Linked DNA regions of Homo sapiens: regions 2, 3 and 4 are each linked to region 1. Evidence: fine-mapped expression QTL. A gene starts in region 1. Each other region holds a variant in brackets. All regions are shown on one strand. Distances are from middle to middle.

Region 1 (8,101 bases):
CACTTGAAAATAAGCCATGCCCATGAATATAGCACTTAAGGCTATATGAATAGGGGCCGGATGCAGTGAGTCACCCCTGTAATCCCAGCACTTTGGGAGGCCGAGGCTAGTGGATCACTTGAGGTCAGCAGTTCGAGACCAGCGTGGCCAACGTGATGAAACCCCGTCTATACTGAAAATACAAAAATTACCTGGGCATGGTGGTGTGCATCTGTAATCTCAGCTACTCAGGGGGCTGAGGCACGAGAATGGCTTGAACCTGGGAGGCAGAGGTTGCAGTGAGCCAAGATGGCACCACTGCACTCCAGTCTGGGCAACAGAGTGAGACTCAGTCTGGAAAAAGTAAAAGAAAATGGGGCTCAGAAAAGTTCAGCAACTTTGTTGTTGTTGTTGTTGCTGTTGTTGTTGTTGAGACGGAGTCTCGCTCTGTCACCCATGCTGGAGTGTTGCGGCGCAATCTCGGCTCTCTGCAACGTCTGCCTCCTGGGTTCAAGAGATTCTCCTGCTTCAGCCTCCCGAGTAGATGGGACTACAGGTGCGCGCCACCACGCCCGGCTAATTTTTCTTGTATTTTTAGTTGAGTTGGGGTTTCACCGTGTTACACGGGATTGTCTTGATCTCCTGACCTTGTGATCCACCCACCTCGGCCTCCCAAAGCGCTGGGATTACAGGTGTGAGCCACTGCACCCGGCTTAAGTTCAGCAACTTTCTAAAAACATACAACCAGAGCATGGCAGAGCACAGCAGAACCCTAAAGCATCTGAATTCACGTCCCTGGATCTCTTCACCATCCCCTGGTGTTCCACTCCCATTACGCAGAAGCAAAGTCACTCAGGCACTTGCAAAAACAGTAACGATCATAGCTGGATCTCAGTGAGCATTTGATCTGCGTCAGCCCCGTACCAGGAGCTTTATACACATTGACTCATTTAATCCACAGCATGACACCAGGATTTGGAAGCCAGGAGATTCCCATTGGTGATGGGGAGTGGAGGCTCATGGAGGTGAAGTGACTTGCCCCACAGTCACTCAGCTCGTCAATTGGGGAGCTAGAATATGACCCTAAGCCAGTTCCTGCCTCTTTGCTGTCCTAGAACCATCTGCCTGTAACAGCACAAGGTATGTGGATGATTTTGGTGATGCTTTTAAATCCTCTGTGTGACAATAAACATATACGCATGTAGATTCATAGAATAAGACAGGACTGGACACACAGGCACACACAGCCACCAAGAGATATGAAAGTCCCTGGATAGAAGGCTGGGGTTAAGCAGTCAGTGCTGGGGTGGGACAGATGGGGGTGGATGCTAATGTTTCTTACACTTTCAATACATTAATTTACAAGACTTCGGTGTAATAACAGCGACAGCATATTTTGTGAGCTCCTACTGTGTGCCCGGCACACAGCAAGGAGCACCAAGAACTATCTCATTTACTCCTCCCCGCAACCTTGTAGCATTGTCCCCATGTTACTGAGCAGGGAAGTGAAGTGCTCAGAGGCAGAGGGATGCAGCCAAGAAGGAATTCCACATCCACCTATGTCCAGCTTCTGCCCCCAGGGTGAAAAGACCAGTGATCCTGGGGGCCAAGGATCTGGCAGCCAATTCTAGGCCTCCAACTGACTTGCTGCACAACACAGAGTACATCACAAAGCAAACCTACCCACTCATTCTCTCTCTCGTCCCAGTGTCAGCTTCCTTAAAGGGGAGGGAAGGGGGTCTGTGAGCAGAAGGAGGGCTCTGTGGTCAAATGTGAGGTTCTAGAGTCTCCTTTGTGGGGATCTCAGCCCCGACTCCACCTCTGCGTAGATACAGAACTTAGTGTCATCCCTTCACCTGTCAAAGCCTCAGTTTCATGGAGGTTACATGGGAAAATAACAGCTATCGGGAATTGGAAGAAACATCATCTGTTAAGACAGTGCTGTAAACATTCAATAAACAGCTGTTGTCATTATCACCACCATTCCATTTATCACTGTGATATGCCATTATATGAAATGACAGCAGTGGCTTGGCCCCTGATACCTTTGTTTTCTATCAGGAGAGTCTAAAGTAAGGGAGCAGGTCAGCTTCAACAAGGAGAAGGAAGAAAGACTTTGTGTTTTGGTCACTGGGCCGAGGATAGGATGGTTGGACAGAGAGGTCACTGGATAGAAGTTAAACCCACCAGGTCAGCTGAGTAACTCACTAATTCCTTCTGATCTGGGAGTCTAAGGAGCTCCGTCTTCCTACCGCCATAGCTGATCTCAAGCCCCTCCAACTGTCACATGGGGGCCCAAGAATCAGGAGTCACTCACCGCCATGACCAGCTCAAACGGGTACTTGTAGACTCGGACAGGAGACTGGTATCTTTGCACCATGTTCACGCTGGAGCACCAATGGAGGTCACCAGGCAGGGGTGTGCACAGAGCCTGGGGCGAGGAGTGACTGGTGAGGTTGCAGCTCCCACCTCGGGAAGCAGGGACACCACCCACCAAGTGTAAGGGGCAGCCCCTGGCCCCACCCACACAGCTCCCCAGCCTTCAAATTGAGAAGGCTGATATTCCCCCCAAATTACTCCAGGCCAAGCCCCAACAGCTTCCCTGTCATTAGCCATGGCCCCAGACCACGCTCAGCCTTCCAAGAGCAGTCAGCACCCCCAAACTTTCCTCTACCCCCACCCCTTCACACTGAGGGCCCCCAGAAGCCTTACGGCCACCCACACAGACACACACACATTTGCAATTCTTACACTCCCACGGTTCTATTCACGCATGCACCCCGCAGCTTGCCACAGACTTGCTGGCCTACAGCCCACCCCCGAGTCTCCTTGCACCTGCCCTCCCATTTTCCTCCCAGACACCCTGACATACACACACAGCCTTCACCACATTTCACAGGCACTGTCTCTATCACACACATGTACACACGCAGGTTTCCCTCCCACACGGGACTGCTTTTGCACACGCCTCCAACTTTGCACACACACCCTGAAACACGCACCTGCCCAGCTCCACGCACGCAATTCCCCTGGTGTGCACAGACGTGCACACACGCACACACACCCGTGCGCACATGCACACACACGTACACACACGTAGAGGCAATCGCACACGCATGCACACACAGGTCCCCGCAGCTTTGCTCACCCTCGCCCTCGGGAGCCTTTGGGAATGCAGCCTAGGGGAAGTGCCCTGGAAGCCCGCCTGGCTCGGGAGCTGAGCGCTTACCCGCGCCCGCCTGGCCTGGAGCGCAGTACCTGAGGCGGGGCCCGATCGCGGATCTCTAGCCTGGTGTGTCCCGCCTTGAACACCCTGCGGCCAGGACAGCTGTGGAAGGCCGGAGGGGCGGGAGCGAAACCTGCCGGGCCGAGAGAGCTCCAGGACCCGGGACAGCGGAGATCCTGGCCTGGCCCCGCCCCTGACCTGGTCCCGCCCACGTCCCCGGCCATGGCCCCGCCCAGGTTGGCCCTGCCCCCTAACTGGTCCCGCCCCACTCTGGCCCCGCCCCAGGCGAACTCCCCCTGGTTCTAGCCCCGCCCCTTATTTTTAGATGTCGCTTGTTTGACCACGCCCTCAGCCCAGTCCTTTCTCTAGATTGGTCACACCTCAGGAAGTCCCCTCCCCCTTCACTGGCCCCGCCCTCCAAGGCCCTCAGCCTCGGGGAATGGTAGGCCACAGGACGACCCCGCCCTAATCTAGCTCTGCCTCCAAGCAGACCCTGAGTCCGGGCCGACCCGCCCCGGACCCTGCGTCTGGCCGACAGTACTGTTTACATTTGTAGATAAGCAGAATTTACGCTTTTCTTGCTCAGATTAACCTCGCCCTCGTCCCGCTGCACTTGGGTCTGACTGGCTCCTCCACCTGTCCCCGCCCCACGGCCCGCGCATGCACCTTCGCCCACTCTGCACACCTTCACAGAGCGCCTGCTGGGGGTCAGCCCTGTCCAGGCGCTGGAGAGCCGCCGGTGAGCCACACGCACGAATCCCTGCCCTCGTGGAGTTTATACTACGGTGGGGAGACAGACACTCAATAAATAAGGCAAATATATGATGTGTGAGGTAGTGAAAAACTCTAACGAGAGAAAAATAAGCAGGAAAGGGGCTCAAGGAGCCAGCGGAGAGAAAGGACAATTTAAAACAGGTAAGAGGCCGGGCGCCATGTCTCACGCCTGTAATCCAAACACTTTAGGAGGCGGAAGCGGGAGGACCGCTTGAACCCAGGAGTTGGAGACCACCCTGGGTAACATAGCAAGAACCTATCTCTACAAAAAAATTTTTTTTTAGTTTAGGCAGGGCGCGGTGGCTCACGCCTGTAATCCCAGCACACTGAGAGGCCAAGGCAGGCAGATCAGCTGAGGTCAGGAGTTCGAGAACAGCATGGCCAATATGAGGAAACCCCGTCTCTACTAAAATACAAAATTAGCCGGGCATGGTGGCGTATACCTGTAATCTCAGCTACTCGGGAGGCTGAGGCAGGAGAATCGCTTGAATCAAGGAGGCGGAGGTTGCAGTGAGCCGAGACTGCGCCACTGCACTCCAGCCTGGGCAAGAAGAACAAAGCTCCGTCGCAAAAAAAAAAAAAAAAAATTAGCCAGGCGTGTTGGCACGTGCCTGTGGTCCCAGCTACTCAAGAGGCTGAGGCAGGAGGATCCCTTGAGCCCAGAAGTTCAAAGCTGCAGTGAGCTGTTACCTGGCCACTGCACTCCAGCCTGGGCAACAAAGCAAGACTCGGTCTCAAAATAAATAAGTAAATAAATAAATAAAACAGGGAGTAAGGGGGCCTCCCTTGGGAGAGTGACATTTGTCCATCACTCTCATTTTAACTCACACTTAACCCCTTTCAGCCCTCCCAGGACTCCCAGGGGACCAACCTTGCTCCCAGAAGTCCTGCCTTGCCACTCCTCATCTGTTTAGCCTACAAGACCCAAGAAATTGGCTCTGGACAGTGCTGTCATCCATGTATTCACTCATTCAACATTTACTGAGCACCTACTACGTGCCACCGTGGGGTGAATTCACCCCTTCAAGCAGGGGAAGTCAGAGGTGGCCAGGGAGATGGACAACCCCTGATATATTTCAAGTATGTCACTGCACCCTGTGAAAATCACCTCTCTTCCCTTCCTAGCCTGCATCACATTCTAATATTGCATTTATTCGTTTTATATATCTGTGGGTTCCTGGAGGTCTCTCTCAGGAGACTGTGAGCTCCCTGAGGGCAGGGGCAGTGGCTGCCTTATTCAGCTGCCCGCATGTTGGGAAGGATCTTACTGGGGACCTGGCAGGCAGGCAGCAGGTGCCCAGCAGACTCTTGGCTTAGGTAATCAAGGGCGGAAATGGGACACAAAGTTCCCATCCCTGTCGCAAGGTGGCAGCAAATGATAGCCCATGGCTCCTGGAGTAACACAAGGGTGAGTAGGTGGGGGACATGGGATCCAGGGATGACTGTCCTAACCCGGGCTCATCCAGGAAATGCCCAGCTCTGCCCAGGCATCGCCACAGAGCAAAGTGAACGTTAACACCGTTAGCTGCTGTTACCACCACGAAAGGCGTTAAGTCCGCCTCTCCTGCTGCCCAACATTGAGGGAGGACAATGACTGCGTGGGAGACAGAGGTGTGACAGCCCTGCGGGTACAGAGAGCTCAAAGTGGAAACTGGGGCCTGGAGGGGAGTGAGAACCCCACTCCCTCCTCCTCCAGCCCCAGGGAAGGGAATTAATAACGCCACCAACACTCACTCCAGCTTTTTTTGGGTTTTGGGGTTTTTTTTTTACGTGGAGTCTTGCTCTGTTGCCCAGGCTGGAGTGCAGTGGCGCAGTCTCGGCTCACTACAACCTCCGCCTCCCAGGTTCAAGCAATTCTCCTGCCTCAGCCTCCCGAGTAGCTGGGATTACAGGCGCTTGCCACCACACCTGGCTAATTTTTGTATTTTCAGTAGAGACAGGTTTCATCATGTTGGCCAGGCTGGCCTCAAACTCCTGACCTCAGGTGATCCACCCGCCTCAGCCACCCAAAGTGCTGGGATTACAGACATGAGCCACCACACCTGGCCCAGTTGCCTATTATTACTGTTCTACTAATTATTCCTACCACTTGTTGACACTCCATTGGCGCTTACTATACCTAGCACCATTCTAAAGCTTTACAAACACGAATGCATTTAATCCTCAAAGCAACCCCAGAGCAATGAAAATGTCTTGGAATGTGATAGAGGTGGTGGTTGCACAACGTTGCAAATGCACATGCCACTGAATTGGGGCCACAATATTAAAATGATTAATTTTCTGTTACGTGGCTTTCATCTCAATTAAAAGCCCATATACAGTCAAAACTATTTTAATCCTCATCTTACACGTAGGGAAACTAAGGCACAAGGCACAGAGAGACTGAATAACTTGCCCAAGGCCACACAGCTAGTAAGGAACTCATACCCAGGACTCTCGTTCTCCAATGACTTCTTCTCCTAGAGCTGCAGCTGATGCTCCGGGAAGATGTGATTTCCAAGCCCTGAACTGCAAGATCTCCAGGCACCCTGGCTCCAGGACAAGAAGGCGCTGCAAGGATAGGCTGATTCCCCAGGGGTGCTGGGCATGAACTCAGTCCCAGGGCAGGATCTTTAGCCTCTATCTGCTGCTTCCCACCTGCCCTGCAAGAATGACCCAGCCAATGCTGCCTTTTGTGGAGGTGGGTTTTGGGAACCCCAGAAACCACCTCATGTCTCTGAATGTCTTCCCAGCAGATGGGCCACTGCCAGAGAAGATTCAACCATTAGTGATGCATTTGTTTGAGTAAAACTCTGGACCCCATCCAAAGGCAGATGTTCCTGGAAGGCATCCTGCTGGGAATGTCCTGAGTTGAATGGCTCAGTGTGACATTGAGAATGGGGGTTAAGACCCTGGAATACATAATGGGCCCTGGGATGGCTCTGAAGCTGAAGAAGATGCAGTAAGCAGGGTACGGTCCCCAGCTTAATTTTATTGTGGCAAAATGGTCCGAGCACAGTGGCTCATGCCGGTAATCCCAACAGTTTGGGAGGCCGAGGTGGGCGGATCACCTGAGGTCAGGAGTTCGAGACCAGCCTGGACAACATGGCAAAAACCTGTCTCTACTAAAAATGAAAAAATTAGCCAGGCATGGTAGCGCATGCCTGTAATCCCAGCTACTCAGGAGGCTGAGGTAGGAGAATCACTTGAACCTGGGAGGTGGAGGGTGCAGTGAGCTGAGATCACACAACTGCACTCCAGCCTGGGCAACAGAGTGAGACTCCATCTCAAAAAAAAAAAAAAAAAAGAAAAAAATCAGCTGGGCACGATGGCTCATGCCTGTAATCCCAGCACTTTGGGAGACCGAGGTGGGCAGATCACCTGAGGTTGGGAGTTCGAGGCCAGCCTGATCAACATGAACAAACCTCGTCTCTACTAAAAATACAAAATTAGCTGGGTGTGGTGATGCATGCCTGAAATCCCAGCTACTGGGGAGGCTGAGGCAGGAGGATCGCTTGAACCCGGGAGGCAGAGGTTGCGGTGAGTCAAGATCATGCCATTGCACTCCAGCCTGGGCAACAAGAGAGAAACTCCATCTCAAAAAAAAAAAAAGCACATAACACAAAAGTTACCATTTTAACCATTTCTTAGTGTGCTGCATGCCTGTAATCCCAGCTACTCAGGAGGCTGAGGCAGGAGAATTGCTTGAACCCAGCAGGTGGAGGTTGCAGTGAGCCAAGATCATGTCATTGCACTCCAGCCTGGGTGACAGAGCGAGACTCTATCTCAAAAAAAAAAAATGCACATAACACAAAAGTTACCATTTTAACCATTTCTTAGTGTACAATTCTCTGGCTTTTGGTATATTCACAAGATGCACGTACAGCCAGCACCACTTTCTAGTTTTGGAACATTTTCATCACCCCAAAAGGAAACTCATACCCATGAAGCTGTCACTCCTCCTTCCTCCCTTCCCGCAGCCCCTGGAAACCATCCATCTGTTTATCTGCTTCCTGGGGGACATCTCATTCGTCCCGGGTGGCCTCTACGTTGTGTTGCTTCTTGCCCCTTCTCGAAGCAGAGCCCTGAGGCCTCCTGGATTTGGGAATCTCCAGGGCTATCATGATGGTTGGCAGGGCTGTT
Region 2 (8,101 bases), 33 kb before region 1:
AAATACTTGTTGCATGTAATTTCAGCACTTTGGGAGACCAAGGCAGGAGGATAACTTGAGGTCAGGAGTTCGAGACCAGCATGGCCAACATGGTGAAACCCTGTCTCTACTAAAAATACAAAAATTAGCCGGGAATGATGGTGCACGCCTGTAGTCCCAGCTCCTTGGGAGGCTGAGGCAGGAGAATCGTTTGAACCCAGGAGGCGGAGGTTGCAGTGAGCTGAGATCACACCACTGCACTCCAGCCTGGGTGACAGATAAAAAAAAAAGAAAAAGAATAATACATGTTGTATGAATGAATTTCATTCTCCCTAAACAGAGCCCCAGATGTATTATTAGTTCCATGGCACTGCCACCCAAGTGTGTCAGAGTTAGGGAAGTCCCTGCACGGCAGTGGCCCTAAAGGAAAAACATTATCAACCTGAGTACACATCTTACACATGGCTAGAACTGGATTTGTGGTGTACATACAATTTGTATCCTAGGATTTTTCCTTTTAACATTATATTGTAAACATTTTCCATGTCCATAAAAGCTTGAACTGTGACAAAAGGCTAGTTGCCTTCATATACAAAGAGCTCTTACAAACCAATAAGAAAGCAATGGGCAAATAAGAAAATGGACAAAGGACAAGAACAAGTATGTATTATTAAAAAAAAAAAAAAAAAGGAAAACAGTCACTAAACATGAAAAATCATGCCTGATCTTGCTCATAATGAAAAAACTTGTCACTAATCAACAAGTGACTACTTTTATTCCCTTTCAGAAGTTTGAGATGTTTACTAAGACTTTTGTGGGGAGCTGGAGTGAAGTCAGGAATAGATGCAATTACACATTCAGTGGGAACAATGATTGGTACAACCTCATTGGAAGCCTAATGGTTAAATCTACCAAAATTTTACTTGCATGTAAACTTTGAACCAGCAATTCCACTTTTAAAATGTTATGCTTTGTATATACTTACAGACATTTTAAAAAAATTATTAAGTACTCACATGTACCATGTTGTTTGTATTTTTAAAAACTGAAACGACCTAAATAGGGTTGTTTCCTTCAATAGGGAACTAGCTAAATAGACTAATTCAAAATAATCAAGGCCATGGGCAGTGGCTCACATGTAATTCCAGCACTGTGGGAAGCCAAGGCAGGTGGATCACCTGAGGTCAGGAGTTCAAGACCAGCCTGGTCAACATGGTGAAACCCTGTCTCCACTAAAGATTTAAAAATTAGTCAGGTGTGGTGGCACATGCCTGTAATCCCAGCTACTCAGGAGGCTGAGGCAGGAGAATTGCTTGAAGCCGGGAGGCAGAGGTTGCATTGAGCTGAGATCGTGCCATTGCACTCCAGCCTGGGTGACACAGTGAGACTCCACTTCAAAAATAATTAATTAATTAATTAAAAATAAAATAAAAGTAAAAATAAATTATCTAGACATGGTGGCCTGTGCCTATATAGTCCCAGCTACTCAGGAAGCTGGGGCAGGAGGATCGTTTGAGCCCAGGATTTCAAGGTTACAGAGAGACACGATTGCACCACTGCATACCAAGCTGGGCAACAGAGCAAGACCCTGTCTCTAAATAAATAATTAATATTTATTAATAAATTAGTTATGGTGCAACCACACCATACTATGAAGTATGAAAAGAAGACATAGGCACTGATACAGAAAGTTTTTCAGGCAACATTAGTAAGTGAAAAAAAAGCAAAATATCAAATGGAATGTATATGTTCTCACGTATTCAACATAAGACACACATGTATGTATGCATGTACACACATATGTGTGTGGGTATATATACATTTTATGTGCATATATGCACCTAAACAGCTTCAGGACATAGAAACACAAAACTATTGTTAGCCTTTAGGGAGAGGAAAAGAATCGTACTTCTTACATCTTCCTTACAGTTTGAATTTTTTTCTACCATGATCATGCATTACTCGTATAATTTAAAATAGCAATAGCAATCGTAATAATTAGTAAATTCATAATAATTGCTAAGTTAGTAAATAGTAAAACCAGAGAAAGAGGCAATGTCAAGGCACCAGAGGTTAATTCCTGATCTAGAAATAAATGAGTTTTTGCCGGGTGCAACGGCTTACGCCTGTAATCCCAGCACTTTGGGAGGCCAAGGCAAGCAGATCACTTGAGCTCAGGAGTTTGAGACCAGCCTGACCAACATGGTGAAACCCCATCTCTGCTAAAAATAGAAAAAATTGGCCGGGTGTGGTGGCAGATGCCTGTAATCCCAGCTACTTGGGAGGCTGAGGCAGAAGAATCACTTGAACCCGGGGGGCGGAGGTTGCAGGGAGCCGAGATCGTGCTACTGCGCTCCAGCCTGGGAGACATAGGGGGACTCCGTCTCAAAAAAGAAAAGAAAAGAAAAGAGAAAAGAAAAGAAACAAATGAGTTCTGCTCTTGGACCAGGATGGAGAGAGAGAAAAGCACTCAGTGGAGGCAGGAGGCGGTGTCGTTCCAAGACCCAGACCCATTCCCAGGGGGGACGGCAGGCAATTCTCCCCAACATGCCCCAGGGCCCCCCATGGAGCAAGAGGACCTGCAGCAGCCTCCTAGGGCTGACTGGCCTGGGCTGTACCACCTACCGTCCATACTGACCGCCTCCAGAGCGGGCCCCAGGGTGCTACGGGGCCCGTGGGCCTCCAGGGAGCTGGGGTCCCTCGGTCCAGCCTGGTTGCGGGCATCCTCCTCACGGACTGGGGCAGGCGTCCAGCGCGGAATGTGCGAGGTACCCTGGGAGATGAGCTCATTCAGGTAATGCTCAATCACCTCCTTCCCCTGGAAGCCAGAGAGACCCAAGACACATGAGCACGGGGCAGGATGGAGGGGGGTCACAGGATCACCACAGGGAGTCACCCCCAGCCGGCTCAGGTCCCAGCCCCGACACGTGGCTATTGAGTGGCTGGATGTGTCTGGTCGGGATGGAGAGAAGCTGCGAGTGTCCAACACCCACCTAATTTCCAAGGCTTGGTACGAAACAAAGAATGCAAAATAGCTCAGTAATCAGTTTTTTGGGTTGGGGGTTGTTTTTGTTTTTGTTTATTTTTTTTGAGACAGTGTCTTGCTGTGTTGCCCAGGCTGGAGTGCAGTAGTGTCATCTCAGCGCACTGCAGCCCCAACCTCCCAGGATCAAGAGATCCTCCTGCCTCAGCCTCCTGAGCAGCTGGGACTATAGGCACACACCACCACACCCACCTAATTTTATTTTATTTTATTTTTTTAGAGATGGAGTCCACTATGTTGCCTAGACTGCTCTGAAATTCCTGGGCTCAACTGGGCCTCCAACCTCGGAGAATTAAGTTTTATATTGATAACACATTGTTTAAAAATTTGTTATTAAAGTTAATTTCATCTGTTTCATCACAAGAACGGGTTTTTACTCAGGGATGGATCTGAGGTCTTTAGAGCAAGCAATGATCATTTTATCTAAAAAAAAAAAAAAAAAAAAAAA[AAG/G]CACCACAGAATTATCTGTTGTCCAGATAATTCACCACATAAGCCTGGACATCTCATGGTGCCAGAGCGAGGATTAGGGTGCCCCTGTTACAGACCAGTTACTTTCCATCCATTATCTCGTGGTGATTTGGTCATTACTAGAGTACCCATTTAACAGATAACACTGAGCCCAGGAAGGGTAAGGGTCTTGCCAGGGGTCATGCAGCTGTTGATGGCAGAGCAGGTGTGTGCACCTTCCTCCAGTAACTAACGCAACCCACCGCTTACCCTCTTGACGTTGGCGGTGTACTGCTTCATGGCGATCTTCTCCAAGGCATTTTCAAAGCCAAAGAAAGACCGAATGTCCAGTGAGGCAGACTGCTCGAAGCAAGTCCAGTCTTCATTCTCAGGGTGGACCTGAAAGCCAGGCAGGGGTCATGCCAGGGACTCAATGTCGGGGGCACCCTGCCCTCCCCTAGGGCTCTCCCACTGACCTGGGCCCAGGCAGAGCCTGCAGTGGAAAGCAGATCAAGCCTGGCAACCCTGGATGGGGTAGCAGGACCAAGGGGCCCCCACCCAGAGAACGATGCAAAGTTCAAACTGTCAGGGAACAAAAAGCCTTCTCATGAGAAGCCGGGAGAATGTGGGTCTCAAATCTGCAGCCCTGCCCTTTCAATATTATACACATACATAGAAAATTAGTTAGAAATACTTATGTTTAGGTCGGGCATGGCGGCTCACGCCTGTAATCCGAGCACTTTGGGAGCCCAAGGTGGGCGAATCATTTGAGGTCAGGACTTGGAGACGAGCCTGGCCAACATGGTGAAACTCCATCTCTACTAAAAATCCAAAAATTAGCCAGAGATGGTGGTGGGTGCCTGTAATCCCAGCTACTCGGGAGGCTGAGGCAGGAGAATCGCTTGAACCTGGGAGGCGGAGGTTGCAGTGAGCCAAGATCATGCCACTGCACTCCAGCCTGGGTAATAGAGCAAGACTCCATCTCCAAAAAAAAAATAATAAAATAAATACAATTGTTCAGTGTATCATTTATATAATCTATAAATAAATTATATATCAATATTACACATAAAATTTAGATATAGATTTTTTAAATAGTTGTATATTATATGTTATCTATATAAAGATATATTACATATCCTTATATATCAATAAACATTTATAGATCTGTATGTTTGCAAAAAGAAAACTTCATTGGCAGAGCTCCTTTATGGATCCAGACCTAGTCCTCCTCAAACGTCTGTGGGCAGAAACATTACCAAGGAGTCTGTTAAAATATGCAGATTCCTGGGCCTGCCCCTAGACACTTCCAGGTTGGGGCCCAGGAATCTGCATTTCGCAAGCAGCCCCAGGTGCTGCTGACTCAGCTATTGATAGAACTCATTCTGAGAAACACCACACACACTAAGAGGGGTTTCAACAACTGTTGCTTGCCCCTCCCCAGAAGATCTGAACACCCTGAGCCCAAGCTCCTGGAGGACCCAAGAGGAGTTGGAGGCGTAGAAAGAAAAGGCAATGGAGCCGGGTACGGTGGCTCATGTCTGTAATCCCAGCACTTTGGAAGGCCAAGGTGGGTGGATCACTTGAAGCCAGGAGTTTGAGAATAGCCTGGCCAACATGGAGAAACCCTATCTCTACTAAAAATACAAAAATCAGCCGGATGTGGTGGCACATGCCTGTAATCCCACCTACACGGGAATCTGAGGCGTGAGAATCTGAGGCAAGAGAATCCTTTTAACAAGGAGGCGGAGGTTGCAGTGAGCCAAGATTATGCCAGTGCACTCCAGCCTGGGCCACAGAGCGAGACTGTCTCTCAAAAAAACAAACAAAAAAAAAAACAAAACAAACAAACAAACAAAAAAAAAAACACGTACAATGGTCTACCATTGCTATCCTGGAGTTATCATCGTGAAAACGATCCAGCAAGGCAGGATCTGCCAATGTCCCGATTTTACAGATACAGACAGTGTGGCCCAACGTCACTCAGCAAGAAAGTGGCAGAGCTGGGTCCCATCAGTGAATGCCTGCAGGTGCCTCATTCCAGCCTCTAAAGTCATCAAGATCTAGGCCCCATGGCCTCACCTTGGCAGACCTCACTCATGCTGTTCCCACCCCCAAAATGCTGTTCCCAGTCCTCCATGAGCAGCTCCTCTCATCCTTCAGCACTCAGCTTCAGTGCCCCTACCACCTTCTCTGACTCCCACACATCTCCCTGCTGGATCCAGCCTTAGCTGTGACAAATGCACACACACTGATTCCGTTTTGTTCCACTGGAATGGACCCTCCGTGAGGGCAGTGGTCAGGCAGCCTGGTCCACTGCTGGGTGCTCATCACTTGGCAGGGTGCCTGGCACATAGTAGGTGCTCAATCAGTATATACTAGAGAATAATTATGATTATTATTAATTATAGTCAAAGGTAACATTTACGTAGAACTTAATATGTGCCAGGCACTGGTCTAAAGGCGCCACATACTACCTGTGTAGTAGGCATGATTATTAAGCCCATTTCACACGTGAGGAAACTGAGGCATAATTTAATGAAAGAAGGAAGGAAAGGAGGGAGGGGAAAGAGGAGGGAGAGGATAGGGTTGTCAGATTTAACAGATAAAACACAGGATGTCCAGTCACGTTTGAATTTCAAATAAACAACAAATAACATTTGAGTATAAGTATATCCCAAGCAATATTTGAGACATACTAAAAAAATTATGGGTTGTTCATCGGAATGCAAAGGCAACCAAGCATCCTGCATCTTTCTTGACAATGCCCCAGGAGGGAGGGCTTGGCAGAGGCTCAAGGAATGTGGGGACACAGCTCTGGGCACAGGTGGGTGCCGGGCGCAGGTGGGTGCCGGGCGTGGGCGCTGAGGGTGGCCTGGGCTCACCGTGTAGCTGCAGTGCTCGTTCACCACCACGCGGTTGGCGAAGGTCTCATTGTGCGCTTCGATGAGGAGCGTCCTCTCCTTCCAGTTCAAGATGTTTGTCTGCACGAAGACCACGTGCTCAACACCTGCGATCTGCAAGGGAAGGGGCGGGGAGGCGGAGGTGGGTGGGCGGCGTGGAGCACACAGGAATGGAGAGCGAGTCCGGCGGGCCTGCCCCAGTCACCCCCTGCCCTGAGTCCCAGGTCCCTTGCGCCACCGCCCACCCAGCCCGGACCCAGGACACCAACCCCCGACTTCCGCCCTGCCGCCAACCCATCTTCACCACCCAGCTCCGGCCCTGGCCCCGCGAACCCCGCCCAGTTCCCGCTACTCCCCAGCCCAGCCTTCCAGCCCTCGCCCCTCCTGGGCCCTGGTCCCGCCACCCTCATCCTGGAACCTCCATCCAAATATCAACTCACACGCCCCTGCTCCACCTCCTGGACCCCGCCGCCCTGGTCCCCAGCTCCCGCGCCCAGCCCTCCCGCACCTCCGCAACAGGTCCCCTCCTCCGCCCCCCAGCCCCAGGGCCGCCCACCTTCCGCAGCAGCCGCGGGGCGTCCACGCGCAGCCGGCAGCTCCGCTCCACCACGTGCACAGCCCCGTCCGGGCTGCGGGACTCGCGCAAGACCTCGCTGCCCAGGAAGACTGGGATCTGTGGGCACGTGGGGAAACGCTTCTCGTAGGCCTGGGGGCAGAGCGGCAGTGAGCGGCCGTGGTGGGGGGGGCAGAGGGACCCCCCCCCCCAGCGCGACCTCCTTATCTGCTGTGTCACTTATCAGACGGGAAAGGCAGCCCTGGCCACTGGAAGGGGCAGGGATTTTGCCGTCATTACCAACAATCGTTCCACCAGCTAGCACCTGTTAGAGCCCAACACAGCAGAGCCTGGACAATGATTTGGCACATAAGTTTTGCCTCTGCATTTGAGTTTTTGCCCTCAGAAGGAAGCACAGGGACTCTGGGGACATTTTAAAATAAGGTATTTCTCAGGAAAAGCATTTGAGAAAAATCCAACACCCCTTCATGATAAAAAAAAAAAAAAAGATTCAATAAACTAGGAATAGAAGGGCACTTCCTCCGCCTGGTAAAGCCATCTGCTAAAAGCCACAGTTAACATCCCTGGTGAATGAGTGCTTTCCCCTAAAATCAGGAACAAGGTAGCAATGTGCATTCTTCGTGTCTATTCGAGCTTGTGCTAGAGGTTCTAGATAAGTAAAAGAAATAAAAGCCATCCAGTTGGAAAGGAAGAAGTAAAACTATCTGTATTTGCAGATGACATGAACATTTATATAGAAAATCCTAAAGCATCCACACACGTACACACAAAAAGATTAGAACTAATCAATGAGTTCAGCAAGGTTGCAGGATATAAAACCAATATAGAAAAATCAGTTGTATTTCTATGTACTAACAATGAGCAAACTGAAAATAAAATGAAAAAATTCTATTTACAACATCAAAAAGAATAAAATACTTAGGAATATATTCAACAAAAAGAAGTGTAAAATGTATACTCTGAACACTACAAAACATTTGCTGAAAAAAATTAAAGCCCTAAATAAATGGAAAGGCATCCCATATTCATGGAACAGAAGACTTAACATTGTTAAGATGGCAATATTCCCCAACTAGTCTACAGATTCAACACAATATCCACATCCCAGTTGACTTCTTTACAGAAATTGACAAGCTTATCCCAAAATTCATATGG
Region 3 (8,101 bases), 61 kb before region 1:
CGTCCTATCTAAGGTCTGCCGTCCAAAATCTAAATGCCTGAGCCCCAAAATGTGCCTCTCCTGTAACAGTACAAGTGTCACACGTTTTGGGTTGCCGGAGACCCCAAAACCCAGGAGCCCTGGCTGTGAGCCTCTAGCGTGTTGCTATCAGGGTAGTACCTCTCCCCCATTCTCCATCCAGGTGGTTTGGGTGGCACTGTCTTCTCACCCCAAGTTGCAGGTGGGCCTGAGAGATTGGTCCAGAGTTAGGCACCTGCCCCGGGTCAGCCCGTCAGAGCCCATCGTGGAACTTCTGCTGCAGCTGGAAGAAGAAACTCTCTCTGCTGGGACTGTCTAACTTCCAAGGTTAGACACAAGGAGGGCCACAAGGTGGGCCAAGGTGGGCCACAAGGAGGAGGAACGGAAACCAACTCTTCTCCAGTGTGGAGAAGACCTGATCAGAACCAAGAGATGGAGCGGGTGAGCCAGTGTGGAAAACGACTAGACTGAGGGTGTTGGGGTGGGGGTGGGGGGACATGATTTGAATGCCTGGATCCAGCTATACCTGAAGCCAGCCAGATCATTCTTGGACTTCCGAATTACATGAACCCATAAATTCCCATTTTTTGCTTGAGGCAATTTGTATTGGGTTTTGGGGTCTCCGGCAACCCAAACGTGTGACACTTGTATTGTTACAGGAGAGGCACATTTTGGGACTCAGGCATTTAGATTTTGGACGGCAGACCTTAGATAGGACATGGAGCAGGAGGCAGAAGTGTCTGAGATTCCAGTACCAACCTATGGTGCTGGTGGGGACACAAATATACAAGAGCTAAAGTCATCAAACTGCAGGCAAGCCGGCTGGGGATTCATGTGCTCCGATCCCAGCAGCATAAGGGTCCCCTCCCCCACCCACAGTAGTGACTCAAGACCCCCAGGCACAGGCACGGTGGTCTTGGACTGCACACTGAAGTCTCTGCAGCTCAACTGGGAACCCTGAGAGTTCCACATGCTGGGCCATCGCCATGGTGACACGTCTCAGCTTCTGGGGTGCTCTGCACAGAACTTTAGTATTCGGAAAGACCCCAGAAAGGTTCCCATCCTGGCGTCAATGGGTGGGCTTTCAAGGACTCTTTGGGGCCCCAAAACAAATGAAATTCGTGTGTGTGTCCTGAGTTCTCATGGGATTCTCCAAGCAGTCTGTGTCCGGAAAAAAAAAAAAATCCTGGCTTAGAGGTTTCAAATTGTGCTTTTTGCCAGCTTGGGCAACATGGCCCCGCCGCTACAAAAAAATACAAGAATTAGGCATGGTGGCGCACACCTGTGGTTCCAGCTACTTGGGGCTGAGGTGGGAGGGTCGCTTGAGCCCGGCAGGTTGAGGCTACAGTGAACCATGATCATGCCACCGCACTCCAGCCTGGGTGACAGAGTGAGACCCTGTCTCAAAAAAAAATGTGACTTTTGGGGATCCGCATTCCTCCAAAATGCCTTGTTGGGGGCTGGGCACTAAGGGAGGCAGGGAAGTGAGAGGGAGAAGTTGGTAGCCACAGCCTCTGACATCCCTGGAGGCCCTGGGCTCCCTTCCTCCCAGGCCCTACCCCAGCTCCCACTGCAGCTGCTTGCGTCCAACCTGGCTCCGCAGAGGTCCCAGGGGTCTGTGCCCCAAGAACTGATCCCAGAGGCAGCCTCTGGGCCACAGGGAGCCCTGGGCATGTTTTGCTCGCTCTGGGTCCAGGCCCCAGGAGGCCTCCAAGGAAAGCGCTGTGGCTGAGACAGGCATCAGCAGGGCCCCACAGCTCAGGCCTGATCCCAGCTCCCGCCCACCCTCCGGAGCTCCATCTTCCCCCACAGGGCTGTTCTTTCTCGATACCCGCCGCACCCACGAGTCAGCTGGCTGTTCCTTTGAAACCCGCCACCCACAGTTCCAGAGAAATCCACGGAAGAGTCACCGCCCATGAACACACGCAAGTGCAAGCCGCCTCCTCTCCCCTGACGAGCTGTGCTGGGCAGGGCTGGGGAGCAGAAGCTGGGTGGACAGATGGCCCTCGTGCCATCACACAAAACACCACACCTGCTCTGCTCTCACAAATGACAACCCCAGCCACCAGCTCCAAAACGACGAAGGCTTTTCAGAGTCCCAGGATCTGTGTGGCAGCCAGCTCCACTCTCCGTGCCCCAAGAGAGCTCACGGGAAGGACAGGTGGCACCCTGGACAGGGTTCATCACAACCTTCTGACGTCAGGACTGTGGCTGTTTTGGGATGCAGCTCTCCAGGACACCAGGTCTGGCACTTTGGTAAAACCCCAGGGGGAGGGCAGGGCAGCCCAGGAGAGATGGGCACCAGGGATTTTCATATCTGTTTAATGCAGATATAACTGTGTATCTGGTTAGCTATTGTATGCATACATAATAAGTTGAGTAGCATGCCCCAAAATTCATGTCCATCCGGAACCTTAAAATGTGACCTCGCTTGGAAGTAAGATCTTTGCAGGTGGAATTAGTTAAGGATCTCAAGACGTTATACTGGACTTAGGATGGGTCCTAAATCCAATGACTGGCATCCCTACAAGAAGAGGAGACACAGAGAGAGAGGAAGGCCATATGATGATGGAGGCAGAGACTGGAGTGATGCAACCACAAGCCACGAGGTGCCACTAGACACTGGAAGAGGCAAGGAAGGGTCCTCCCCTACAGCCTTCAGAAGGAGCAGGGCCCTACCTCCATGGTGATTCCGGACTTCCAGCCTCCAGAACATTCCTGTTGTTGTTGTTGCTGTTGTTGTTGTTTTGAGACGGAGTCTCACTCTGTCACCCAGGCTGGAGTGCAGTGACATAATCTTGGCTCACTGCAAGCTCCGCCTCCCGGGTTCACGGCATTCTCCTGCCTCAGCCTCCCGAGTAGCTAGGACTACAGGCGCCCGCCACCATGCCCGGCTAATTTTTTGTATTTTTTAGTAGAGACGGGGTTTCACCATGTTAGCCAGATGGTCTCAATCTCCTGACCTTGTGATCCACCCGCCTCGGCCTCCCAAAGTGCTGGGATTACAGGCGTGAGCCACTGCGCCTGGCCTATTTCTGCTTTATATATAAAAATTGTGATCCTCCCTCACACGGCCCAATAACCAATCTTGAGAACCTTAACTAATTACACCTGCAAAAACCTTATTTCCAAATGAGGTCACATTCTAAGGTTCTAGGTGGACATGAATTTGGGGACATGCTATCCAATCCATTACATATGTATACAATATATATGATACACAATTATACCTGCATTAAACAGATATGCAGCCCCTTGGGGGTGATATCACTCCGGTTGCAAATGCTCTAAAGCAAGGGTGTCCAATCTTTTGGCTTCCCTGGACCACATTGGAACAAGAAGAATTGTCTTGGGCCACACATAAAATACACTAATGATAGCTGATGAGCTGAAAAAACAAAGAAAACACACACACAAAAAACCTCAGTATTTTAAGAAAGTTTACGAACTCGTGTTGGAGCACATTCAAAGCAGTCCGGGGCCGCGTGCAGCCTGCAGGCCACAGGCTGAACAAGCTAGCTCTAAAGTCTTTTAAACAACAGCTGGAAAGTTCTTGAACGAGCCCACGGGAAACCTCCAGGGTTTTAGGAAGCTGACGATGCAAGTTTATCCAAATGGAAAACATTTAATGCTGCTGGTTGGAGCAAGTGATCAGGCAAACAAAAAAACCCATCGTGTTTCACTGGCTCAAAGAGACTTTGTTGAAAACAATTATACTATTCTCATTGGACAATAAATTTTACAGCAGGGAGGGGGAATTCCAGAGAGTGCAGGGTAGAAAAAAAGAGTCTCAAACTCTCCATACTTCAACCTCTGGGAAAAAACATTTTC[T/C]AACTGCCAAGGGAAATACCACTCAGAATACACTCCCTCAGATGGGTGGACTTACCCAGAAAACACAAGCAGCTTCTTTCTTCTTTTTTTGAGACAGGGTCTTGCTTTGTCACCCAGGATGAAGTACAGGGGTGAGATCATGGCTCACTCCAGCCTTGACCTCCAAGCAATCCTTCTGCCTCAGCCTCCCGAGCAGCTGAGACTATAGGCACGCACCACCACGCCTGGCTCATTTTTTAATTTTTTGTAGAGACAGGGTCTCACTATGTTGCCCAGGCTGGTCTTGAACTCCTGCACTCAAGCGATCAGCCGGCCTCAGCCTCCCAAAGTGTTGGGATTATAGGCATGAGCCACCACGCCCCGCCCACACAAGCAGTTTCTAAAAGAGAAAGACTGCACACCCAACTCAGAGGGCAATAATTCTTGACACCTACTTTTCTCTGGGTGCAATAACGAAAAACAGGGATAGGCGACCTCAGGAAGAAAACGAGTCTTTGGATGCGAAGCATTAAGTAATCAGAATGACCACTGACATTAATGGAGCGCTTTCTGTGTTCTGGGAGCTGTGCTGAAAGCTTTACAGCTACTCCCTCATTTCGTCCCACTACAACCTATTGAGGTAGGCACTGCTATCCTCACTTTACAGATGAGGAAACTGAGGCACAGAGAGGTTAAGTCACCTGGTCAAGGTTACACAGCTAGTGAAAGGAAGGCTGGGGTTTGAGTCCTGGCCTAAATTCAAGGCCCAGGTGCCCAAACACCAACAGTAATGCTGCTTGTGGGTTGCTTCTGTCCTGGTCACAATGGATTAATGAACTAATGATGCAAGAAGCCCAAGCCAAGGCACTTCCAGCCTTTGTGGCTCAGGGGAAATTCAAAAGCCAAAAGCTTGGCAATCCCTTCCTTGGATTATTTTTAATTCCAGTCCTCCCGAAGGCAAGAAGAATGACCTTGATAATGCTTCCACGTGGGTCCCCGAGACCTCCACATGGGAGGAGAGCCGGCCGTAGCAGATGCCACCATGGATACCTGCTGGTTCTGTGGTCCAGCTTCTCTTGTCCATTGGGGGAATGGCCCTCCCCAATCCTGCTGCGGCTTCTGCAGGGAATGTCAATCACGGGACCCTAGTTCCTTGCCAGTGTGGCCCACAGGAATAAGCATGTGACTCGAGCTGGGCCAATCAGAGCCTTCCATGAGATTTGAGATGGAAAAGCATCTCTTAGAGTGTGAATCCTGAAATTATAGGCTTGGGGCTGCTGGCAGCCATCTTTCCCGCCAGGTGGAAGAAAGAATGAGGTCAGCATGCAAAGAGATGCAGAGTCAAGAGGCCTGGGTGCAGTTGAGAGGCCTGAGGACATTAAGCTCCTGGATCCAGCCATATCTGAAGCAGCACCCACCTTCAGCCATCCCTAGTACAGGACCCAGGGAATTTGCTTTGTTGCTTAAGCCAGTTTGGGCTGGTTTTCCCTAGGGAGAGAGCACTCTCAAGAGCAGAACTGAAAGGGCCTGAGGTTCCTCACCCCCACTGTTAAGGGTGGACAGCTGATAGCAGACTCCCCTCCCCCCACCCGCCTCTGGAACAGGCAGTTCCAGCTTCCTTCCGTAAAAGGCTTCTGTGTCCTTCTCTGGGGCTAGACAATAAATGTATAAAGACTGCCAGGGCAGCTTATCCCAGCATACTTGTAGGATAACACCTAGTTTTTAAGAGAAAAGCTAGAAATTCACTTAAAGATAGTTGAAAATATTGCAAGTTGCTCTCAGCAATAAATGCCTGGTGATATGGGAGCAATTAGTTTTGAGAACGTCTCCTTCCAATCAGTCGGTCTCTTATGCACACATGTGCACACACACCTTGACGCAGAGTGCAAAGCAATCTATTTTGTTCAGATACCTGAGAAGCGGACAGAGAGCCAACAGGAAGGTGGGCAAGGCTCTCTCCCAGCAGGAAGAAGGATGTATCTGAAAAGATGACACTTTCTCTCTTCCTTGGGTTTGGGGTTGAGGCTGGCGTAGATATAAGTTTCCTGGCCCTGCATTGCTGAGCCTGCATAAAGATGATTCTTGTGGCCACAAAACCACCCCTTGGCTCAGTTACTGCAGCAGAGATGAGCCCCAACTCTAAGCAAGGCCAGGAGACAAGGGTACCAGCCACTGCTGACAGAGCCATGTCAGTGAGACTCCTGCCACGCAGGTCATGAGGATGTGTAATGTGGGCTGGGCGCAAGTCAATGGGGTAGGGACTGGCGTGGCCACATCCAGGGGTGCAGAGGTGTTGTCTTCATGCAACAATAGTGACCCCATTCTGCTGGTGCTCCCAAATGCCTAAGGGAAGCCAGAAATCCTGATTTCGATGCGAAATGCCTCAATTTTTAAACCATTCTAAAGGCAAAAAAGCAACACTAAAAGCAGGCCAGATCAGGCTTCAAGTTGGTGACCCCTGACTGGCTGCCTTTTGGGGAGTCCAGGAAAGGAAAGGAGAAATGTCCTCAGGCCCCAAGGAGACCCAAGACGCTCCTGTGTAGTAACTAGGGGAACTCATGTCAATATTGAACCTAGTTCCAGAGTCATATCTGCCCCAGGGCAAACACAGCAGCCTCCACTCGCGGGGGGAATCGAGACTCCATGTTGAGACCCTGGATCTAGCCTTACCTGAAGCAAGCCCTCCTGGACTGGCCAGTTCTATGCACCCATGAATGATCATGCTTTTGTGTTGAAGCACCTGGGCATGGGTCTCTGTGGCTTACAACCAAAAACAGTCATAATTAAACAGTTCCCTAGGAGAGAAAGGCATCTCCAGTGGGGTATACAGACAGCCTCAGTCACCCCATCACTGCCTGGAACTTAGCAGAAACCCAGGGCTCTCCCACCCTCTCCAATCAGGGATGGTCAGGCTTAGGCCATGCTGGCCAAGTGCAGGGAACATGGATTTTCACTTCAGGATGTGCTGTTCCCCACAAAGAGCAGCGCCTGTAACTCACTTAACTGCTCACCAAGCACATCTTGATACTGCATAACAGAACGTTATGCAATCAGATGCCAAGGTAAACACCCTTCATTTCTGCCTCCCCAGCATCCTTCCTCCTTCTTCTTAGGGGGGACCCCAGTACTCCTCGAGGCACCCACTAGTGCTTTTGAGAGCAGGTGGTTGGTTCCAGAGATGTGCATGTGATCCAGGCTGGCCAATCACTGCACCTCACTGCAACCCTGGATCACGGTGATTGGTCCAGATTGGGCATGACCCTGCTGGCCAATCAGCATTCTCCAGTGTGCCTGGCAACTGTGATTGGTTCAGGAATTGACCTGGCAATCGCTCCCCCTTCCAGGCTAAGACTCAGCTCTGGGAAGTGGGCTGGAGCCTTTGGGAGGAAGAGGCTCTCTTATGCAGGCAAGCTGCAGGGAGGAGAAGGGCACCTGATAGTGATGGTCCCCTGCATGGCGAAAGCAGAGCAAGAGGTGGACAGAGAGGAGATGGGCCTGGCTGACGTCGCTAAGCCCGGATGTCCCAAAGGTGTGGTATGGTAGACACCTTGGCCTTGGCTTGGTCTTCCTTACACGAAGCCGGAAGGAGATGGTTCTGTCCTTGCAATTTCAAGAGCCCTGACACCACCCACAGGCCAGTTCTGGATCCTTGCCATCCGCTCCAGACACCCCAACTTGGGCAGCATCTAGGCCTGGGGCTCCAGCCCACATGGTCCCAGGCCCTGCAGTTAGCTGGCTTCTCATTCTGGACATTTCTGGACACTGGAGGCGAGCGGGCGGCCCTGAAACACTGGGCCCGGCTATCTGGAGACCAGGGAGCTGCTATGAGACTGGCCGGAGGAGGAGGACGAGGTGGCGGCGCTGAGCTGGGAGAAGCCGCTGGTGCAGGATTCCAGGCTGGACATGGAGCCCCTGGGGAGGAAGGGCGTGGCACACGTTACCCTCTCACAGTGACAAGGCCCTTGGGCTGACACACAGCAGTGGAAAAGCTGTTGATGCTGCAAATCAGGCCCCAGGGCCCCAGGCCGATGCAAAGGGAAAAGCAAGTGACGCCATGAAGAGAAAAGCACTACCGAATTCCCCACACTCCCATCTCCCCAGATGGAGCCCAGCCTGCCACAGACCCATCAGGGGCTCCCCTGGCCTGAGGCCCTTGCATGGCCCTAAGGCCGCCACAGCCCAGGGAGTCCCCGGCCCTGTCTCCAGTCTCACTCCCTCCTTACTCTTTGCACTCAAATTCCATGGTCCTCCTCCTAGCTCTTGCAGTGGCCTT
Region 4 (8,101 bases), 22 kb after region 1:
CAAAAAAAATTAAATAATTAATTAATTAATTAAAAAAATTTAAAAAGGCCAGGCACAGTGGCTCACAGCTGTAATCCCAGCACTTTGGGAGGCTGAGGCAGGCAGATCACAAGGTCAGGAGTTCAAGACCAGCTTGGCCAACATGGCAAAACTCTGTCTCTACTAAAAATACAAAAATTAGCAGGGCGTGGTGGCAGCAGGAGAGTTGCTTGAATCCAGGAGGCAGAGGTTGCAGTGAGCCGAGAGTGTGTCATTGCACTCCAGCCTGGGCGACAAGAGCCAGACTGTCAAAAAAAAAATAATAATTAATTAATTTAAAAAAAATTAGCCAGGCATGGTGGTGCACACCTGTGGTCCCAGCTACTTGAGAGGGAGGCTGAGAAGAGACAACGGCTTCCGTCTGGGAGGTCAAGGAAGGCTGCAGTGAGCCATGATCACGCCACTGCACTCCAGCCGGAGCAACACAGCAAGACCCTATCTCCAAAAAAAAAGAAAGAAAAAGAAAAGTTAACGTGTTTTTGTTTTTGTTTTTGTTTTTTGACGAAGTCTCACTCTGTCGCCCAGGCTGGAGTGCAGTGGCACGATCTCAGCTCACTGTGACCTCCCAGGCTGGAGTGCAGTGGCGTGATATGAGCTCACTGCAACCTCCCCTTCCCAGTTTCAAGAGATTCTCCTGCCTCAGCTTCCCAAGTAGCTGGGACTACAGGCAGGCGCCACCACGCCCAGCTAATTTTTTATTTTTAGGAGAGACGGGGTTTCACCATGTTGGTCAGGCTGGTCTTGAACTCCTGACCTCAGGTGATCCCCCTGCCTCGACCTCTCAAAGTACTGGGATTACAGGAGTGAGCCACCGCGCCCATCCAAGTTAACATTTTTAATATGTGTCCCCTGCCCCGGGACCTGAAAGCTCCCAAAGAGAAAGCCCCTTTTGTGTTGTTCTTTTCCCTTTTCTCATCCGTGTACAACAAGCAGAGCCAGGCACACTGAGGCTGTGAGAGTGATGGGAAACATGTGTTGAATGAGTAAATGACTCCACTGAGCAATACATCCTCCCCCAGAAAAATGCACATTTGGACACACACATTTTGAAAGCAACTTTAGGGCTGGGTGCAGTGGCTCACACCTGAAATCCCAGCACTTTGGGAGGCCAAGGTGGGAGGACTGCTTGAGCCCAGGAATTCAAGACCAGCTTGGGCAACACAGCGAGACCCCATCTCTACAAAAAACATATATAAATATAAAGGTTTTAAAAATTAGCCAGGCGTGGTGGTGGACACCTGTGGATCCAGCTACTCGGGAAGCTGAGGTGGGAGGATTGCTTGAGCCCCAAAAGTCAAGGCTGCAGTGAGCTATGATTGTGCCAATGCACTCCAGCCTGGGCAACTGAGTCTCAAAGAAGAAAGAAGAAAGAAAGCAAGAAAGCAAGAAAGGAAAGAGAGAGGAAGGAAAGAAGGAAGGCAGGCAGGCAGGCACAACTTTAGGAGGAATCACACCTCTATTTACGCCTAGTGGTCCATTATTGGAACGTGACGCCTGTGGGAGTTATCTCCTACTGCTCAAGGTCACTGCCAAGGTATGATTTATCAATTCAAAAAATTGCAACCTCAGGCATAAATGGGTTAAGCCCACCCATAGAAGCCCCATTAAGAATAAGGTTGGCTGGGCACGGTGGCTAATATCTGTAATCCCAGCACTTTGGGAGGCTGTAGGCCGGCAGATCACTTGAGCACAGGAGTTCAAGACCAGCCTGGGCAACATGGTGAAACTCTGCCTCTACAAAAATTTTTAAAAATTAGCCAGGTGTGGTGGTGTGTGCCATCCGGGCTTCAGGTCAGATTAGGTTTCTGTCTAAGGGCAGCCTCCTCCACTGGCACACAGTCTGGGCCAGGACATGCTGGCAGAATTGTGCAACGTCGTTGTTCTGAGCCGCAATCGAGCAGCTTTTATGACCAGCTATGAAGCGCTCTTCTAGTGCCAGGGCCTGGAGTTATTGAAGTTTCAAAGGAGTTTTTGTCCACCCGAGATGGCAAGCGGAGAGCAGATTCAGGCCAGGGCACTGCGCTCAGCGCTTTGCGTGCATTACCTGCAGGGACATCCCCACAGGCCTTTCGGATGGGGTGGTGGTTATCACCGTTTGACAAAGAAGTAAACTGTGGCTGGGAGCAGTAAAACACCTTGCCCAGGAGTGTCAGCCAACCTGGGGGTGGCAGGGCTTGAACTCAGGCCGGCGCCCTCGGCAGTTCAGCCCCCTTCCCTCAATTGCCACCATCTGAGTGCAATTCGCTAGCTACTAGGGCACATGAATCCGTGCGGGTCTCTGCCGCACCTGTCTTGCGGGGCCCAGCTGGGTGTCCGCCAAAGCACCAGGAGCGCCGAGTTCCGCGGTAGCGCAGAACCAGGTGAAGGCCTCGGCCAGAGGCGCGCCGGGCCCGAGGAGGGTGGGGCTGCGAGCGCTCGCCCCGGCGGCCTTTGCGCCCCAGTGCCTGCCCGGCCTCCGGAGTCCCCCGGCTGGGGGTGGGCGGCGTCCGGCCAAGACCCAGTGTCCCCACCCCCGCGTCCAAGCCCCGCCCGCGCGGTGGCCCCTCCTCGGGAAGGTAAGCACCACCTTCTCGGGGAGCGGCCCGCAGAGCCAGTGGCCGGCGGGCGCCCCGCCCCCAGCGAGTAGGGACCCGGAGCCACTGCCGCGCCGCAGTCCGGGCTCCCCGCGCCGCCGCTCGCTCACCTGCGCTCCCGCCCGCCCCTCGGTGCGCGCCCGGCCCGCCAGCCGCCGCCGCCCGCACCCCGAGCGCCACCATGAACTCGCTCTTCAGGAAGAGAAACAAAGGCAAATACAGCCCCACTGTGCAGACCCGGAGGTGAGGAGGCGCCCACAGCTCCGCTCCGGGACGCTCTTGCCCCTGTGGGCGCACAGGACCTGGAAGACCTCCCGGGCAGTGTAGGAATGGGGGGTACGGGGGTCCAGGAACCGGGAACTGAACCCGGAGTGCGGGACTCTCGGGAACGCGGGACCGAGGCCACCCTGAAGCTGGGAAGCGCCGCCAGGTGGGAAGGGACTGGCTGGGGTCCCCGAGGGGGAGCATAACACAGGGGACTCCGGGAGCCCAGGGAGCATTGCC[T/A]TGAGGGCCTAGGGCACGGGCAGCTGAGCTGGGGGTACAGGGCACCCCCGTGTCCCAGGGTCGCTCTTGCGCAGAGGGTCGCACAGGACCGGGAATAGTCACCTGGATGAGGGGGCGGAGTTTTTGGAGGACCGGGCACTCAAGGCGGGGTCGCTGCGGGCGACCCAGGAAGCTCCGTCCAGGGGGCGCCCTGAGGCAGGGAAACTGAGCTGGCGTCGGGGGGCGCTCTCCAGCGCCTCTGAGACCGCGCAAGTGTTCCTGGCGTCGGGGAGGCGAGGGATGGGTGTCCGGAGGGGGCGGGCCACCCGCCGCTGCACTTCCCGGCACCTGCCACCCTGCGCGCCAGAGCCGCGCCCGGAGGCCCTGGGGGGTGTGGGGTCGGGTCGAGGGGCACAGGGGGAGGCACCCCCTTACCTCCCCACCCTCTGGGTTCTGAGCGGAGGTTGGGCGGCTTCGGGGCCTCCTCTTCGAAGCTCGGTTTCGCAGGGGTGTGGCTCCCTGCCCCCACCCCAGCCCCGAAACTGGCGGCGTCTCTGAGCCGCGGGTTCCCAGGGCGGCCTGGGAGGGGAATGGCATGTCTTGATGTGTTTGCAGGGAGAAGCAGCCCACGTCCCTTTTGATAAGCCTAATGTGTTCACTTAATAACCGGTTTAGGGGAGCCTGGTGGAGATGCTGAGATTGACGGAGGGGGTGGGAATCCAGCCCCTGCCTTATATCCCCACTTCGGAAAATAGAGTGGGGGCTCTGGGCTAGCAAGGACCATTTTGCCAGCTTCTCGGACAAGAGGCTTCAGGCAGGTGAGGGGCCCGCACATTACATGGCTCTCCTGTCTGGGAGTTCTGCCCCCAAGCTGCTCTCACTGGGAGCCCCCACTGTGCCCTCAAGCAGCTCCTCACTTCTTCCCTAGGCAAGGAGAGGCCTCTGGGCCCAGGGCTCCCACTCAACCCCTGCAGTCCGGCCTAGGCCGACCAGTCGGACAGGTGCAGGCGGCGGGGCCCTAGCACGCTGGAGTGCGACACTCCATTCCGGGGCCTTCCAGCCCTTTCAGAAACCCCCCTGCCCTGTGATCCCACCCACCCGTATCTCCGTTTGGGCTCTTTCAAGCTCAGAGGCATTACCCGCCTTTAGAGATTTCCCCACCCCTCCCCTATCTTTCACAACCCCAGAGACTGGGCAGGGCCTGCACACCCCTCCTCCATGGCTGCGTCCAGCTGGCACTCAGACCCAACCAGAGGCCCGTCCAGTCCCTGCACTGTTCCCTGGGGCATTGCACAATTGGATGCTCCGTGCCAGCCGTGGAGAACCGTTCTGTCCTCTCCACCCCAGAGACTAGACCCATCCAGTCCTTCACACATGCAGACACCCACATACCAGTGGTGGGGCCAGGCCTCGCCCCGCCCTCTGCCTCCTCCCAGCCTCCCTCCTTCGTGCAGCTCTCCATCCTGAAGGCCCCAGCTTGGACCTAACAAAAGGTTCTAATGAACCCAGACAAGCTGGGAGGGGTGCGGGCTTTCCCAGAAGCATGAGGATGAAAGGCATCCCATCCTTTATAGCTGCAGGGACTGGGAGGGTCTGGGGTGGCAAAGATTTGGGGTCCTGCCACTCTCTGTATATCTGGCCCAAGGCAGCCACGGTCTGTCCTAGGCTGATAGCCATTGGTCCCAGATCTCCATTTAGACGTCTCTTTCTCCAGGAAGCCCTCCTGATTCTCTCCCCAGCCTGGGGTGCAAGACCATTCCTTTGAGCCTTGCCACCCCAGCACAGAATGAGCACAGCCACAGCCCTGAGCAGATGTCAGATGCCTCCCCGGGTGGTCTCCAAGCCCAGTGCATCCCTCTGCCCCCTCCCCTTAGTGGGGACTAGTTCGCAGACTGGATTGTGGGGTGGGGGTAGCCCTGTACCCCATCCTCTCAAACGCATCTCTTGAACATTGCCTGATGCCCAGCCAGCCCCATAGCAAGTGTCTTGGTGGGGGGGTGGAGGGGACAGACTTGCGGCTCTAGGCTGTGGTCGCTGGTCACAGGGAGTGGATCCCCAAGTTATTCCTTCACTCTGAGTTTTCCAGGGGCCCGCTCCATTGTCTGGGGGAGGACAAAATTGCTGGTGAGATTCAGCATGGGGGGCAGTAGGAGCTCCAGCACTGAGAGCAGAATGCCTCACTGTTGATCCTGGCATCTCCACCCTGGAGCCTCTCGAAGCCTTGTTTTCCCTTTCTGCACAGCACGGGTGGTAATACTGAGTGTCTCATGCATAGGGCTGCTGGGAGGAGCAGTGCTGTAGCACACAGGAGGTGCCCGGATGAGGGTAGCAGCCCTTTCCGAGCCCAGGGGACCCAGGAGCCCCAAGTGGTGACTTTCATACCCAAGGTAGTCAGGCCTTTGGACTACAAAGTGTGGATTAGTGAACGGAACACCCCACCGAGAAAGCCACCCCTTCCAGTTTGTCTGCCTTTTAGCAGCTGAAGCTGGGGAGGGCCGGGACAGGGTGTGAACCCCGTTGCTCCCGTTGCCCGGGTTCCTAATGACAGGTGTGGGAGTTGATGTTCACACCTGAGCTAATGACAGAGTCAGGCCAGATGGTGCAGGTGACCGAGGACAGCCTCCAGCCTAGTAGAGAGGCCCTGGAGGAGACCCGCTGCCACCCTCCTGGCTGTGCGACCTCAGAGGAGCTGCTTGGCTTCTCTGAGCCTGTTTTCTCACCTGTGGGATGGGAATAAGCACGGTGCCTGCCTGGCGATGTTGGCTCAGGATTAAATGAAATAATGCAGGGGAAAGGTTGTGAATGATAAGCGGCCGCAGGTAATAGCATCTGTGACGATTACAGTTATTAAGCAAATGCGGGCAAGCTAGCTGTGGTGTACCCAGGGTTAAACTTGATATCATGGTGGACAGGCTGTGCACTGCACAATTCCATAGGCACTGTTGCTGGGTTTTAGCACGTGGTCGTGGAGGAGACGTGGACAACCTCCCTGCACTTGAGTCGCTGGCAGTCACATCACAGAGATAAGATGGAGTTAAGCTTCAGTACATGTATGGTTACATGAGCGTCGGACTGATGGGGCCAGGCAGGAGCAATGGAGCATAGAGCCGGACAGATGAGGTCTCCACCCTGGCCACTCACATACTTTGTGACAGGCCTCAAGTGAGAGTTGTCACAGTCAGAGCACAGATGCTGGGAGGTGAGGGAGGACTTCACAGAGGAGGCATCTGACCTGTCACGGGGTGGGATGGAGTGGCCAAGACCCAGCTCTGCAGTCAGGCTCAATTCTGCCTCTGCTTGAAAAGAAACATAGCATCCCTGAGCCCCAGCGCTTCTGAATTTGTTGAATGGGATTAATCTTGCCCCTCCACCCAGACCTGGGTCCCAGTAAACACCCAGCAGCCTGGCCTTGCCTAGACGGGTCTTGCAACACTGGGGCCGCCCTGATGGAGCGCTCCTGCATGGGAGGCAGGACCCCAGGCTTTGAGGGGAGAGCTGGCAAAAGGGAAGCATGCTCTACTGGGAGGCACCTGGGGTACCCTGAGCCTCTTAGTGGTTAAGAACACAGTGTTTTATTAGCTGGGCATGGGGGTGGGTGCCTGTAGTCCCAGCTACTCAGGAGGCTGAAGCAGGAGAATCCCTTGAACCTGGGAGGCAGAGGTTGCAGTGAGCTGAGATTGTGCTACTGCACTCCAGCCTGGGTAAAAGAGTGAGACTCTGTCTCAAAAAGAAAAAAAAAAAAGCAAGAACACAGTGTTTGATGCTAGCTGGGCATGAGTTCAGGCCGCAGCTCTGGGTCTCTTAAGCTGTTTGATCTTGGGCAAGTCACTTAATGTCTCCGAGCCTCAGTTTCTTCATCTATGAGGTGGGGTGACAACAGCAACCCCCAGTTGGTGAGGCTGCTGGGTAGATCAAATGAGGGGATGCACATGATGGGTCCAGCCCATGACCTGGTTCAGAGCGAGTGCCCGGCAAATCATAGCAGCCAATACTAGGAAGCACACACTGCTATTAAGAGTCATGACGGGCTGGGCGCGGTAGCTCACGCCTGTAATCCCAGCACTCTGAGAGGGTAAGGCGGACGGATCACTTGAGGTCAGGAGTTCAAGACCAGCCTGGCCAACATGGTGAAATCCCATCTCTACAAAAATAAATATTAAAAATTAGCTGGGTGTGGTGGCGGAAACCTGTAATCCCAGCCAGATACTGGGGAGGCTGAGGCAGGAGAATCACTTGAACCTGGGAGGCAGAGATTGCAGTGAGCCGAGATCACACCACTGCACTCCAGCCTGGGAGACAGAGCGAGACTCCGTCTCAAAAAAAAAAAAAAAAGATTCATGACTGAGCCAAGCCCAGAGCTGACCAGGGAGCTGACTCAAGCAGACACGCACATGCACCCATCGATCAGTGTTGGTAGGAACGCCTGATCGATATGGGAGGGGACCCATGTGGGTAACAGCTTAGAGAGAGCCGCCCCGCCATTTCTCAGGCACATACTGTGAGCCCAGCAAGGCCATGGATGTTACATCTCATTCTGACAGCGGGCCTGCCATGCAGGTGGAAGTGTCCTGTTTCACAGAGGGCTCACATTCACCTTGAGCTCACAGCTCACAAATGGCTGATGCTGGAAGTCCAGGGGGGCCTGGGGAAGCAAATGAGGCCTCCCCACTCGTACCTGGATCTGGCAGCAACTGTGCCTGGGGACTGCTCCAGGCCAAATGGTAGAGTCATTGGTGTTTGTGCTCACTGCCTCTACCCCCAGCAACCCCCTCTACCTCTCTTCTCTCTAGCTTTGCCCCTCCATCCCTTGCCCAGTTCTCTTGGAAGAAGGAATGAGACTGGATAAATTCGATTCAGGACAGAGCTGAGCTTACCTGGAGGAACAGCTGCTAATGGTAGCATTTCAGGCACTGTCGGGCGGATCATGTTGGGAAAGGGTATTTTGGGGGAGAGACTCAGCTCCGTCCACACCCTTTAAGCAATACCCTAAGGGTGTGGTTGGGGGA

Alleles and levels. Alleles are on the strand shown, and positions count from the first base shown. SD is a standard deviation of normalised expression in the study named. Not every link is listed here.
With allele AAG in place of G in region 2, the expression in iPS cells of the gene that starts at base 3,353 in region 1 is lower (large effect, 0.84 SD a copy in HipSci).

Evidence for each region. PIP is the estimated chance that this variant, and not a neighbour inherited with it, causes the effect.
Region 2: its variant is the best candidate, but not a certain one, in a credible set for the expression of SEC14L5 in iPS cells (HipSci, PIP 0.90).
Region 3: its variant is the best candidate, but not a certain one, in a credible set for the expression of SEC14L5 in whole blood (INTERVAL, PIP 0.61).
Region 4: its variant is the best candidate, but not a certain one, in a credible set for the expression of SEC14L5 in sun-exposed skin (GTEx, PIP 0.86).

What each region holds. Positions count from the first base shown.
Region 1 is chr16:4,953,582-4,961,682 of GRCh38, reverse strand. It overlaps SEC14L5 (SEC14 like lipid binding 5), which reads right to left and starts at 3,353. Exons shown (of 16, transcript NM_014692.2): 1 at 3,238-3,353; 2 at 2,297-2,410. The coding sequence starts at 2,359. RefSeq lists an enhancer at 2,826-3,361 and silencers at 3,165-3,460, 3,259-3,468.
Region 2 is chr16:4,986,534-4,994,634 of GRCh38, reverse strand. It overlaps SEC14L5 (SEC14 like lipid binding 5), which reads right to left. Exons shown (of 16, transcript NM_014692.2): 3 at 6,929-7,078; 4 at 6,355-6,486; 5 at 3,740-3,868; 6 at 2,605-2,797. Among named protein-coding and RNA genes, the nearest start is that of SEC14L5, 32 kb to the right of the region's middle. The variant AAG/G (reference allele first, on the strand shown) is at 3,471.
Region 3 is chr16:5,014,498-5,022,598 of GRCh38, reverse strand. SEC14L5 (SEC14 like lipid binding 5) reads right to left here. Exons shown (of 16, transcript NM_014692.2): 16 at 3,442-7,740. The coding sequence ends at 7,629. Among named protein-coding and RNA genes, the nearest start is that of NAGPA-AS1, 15 kb to the left of the region's middle. The variant T/C (reference allele first, on the strand shown) is at 3,850.
Region 4 is chr16:4,931,738-4,939,838 of GRCh38, reverse strand. It overlaps PPL (periplakin), which reads left to right and starts at 2,691. Exons shown (of 22, transcript NM_002705.5): 1 at 2,691-2,855. The coding sequence starts at 2,794. RefSeq lists a silencer at 2,349-2,748. The variant T/A (reference allele first, on the strand shown) is at 3,117.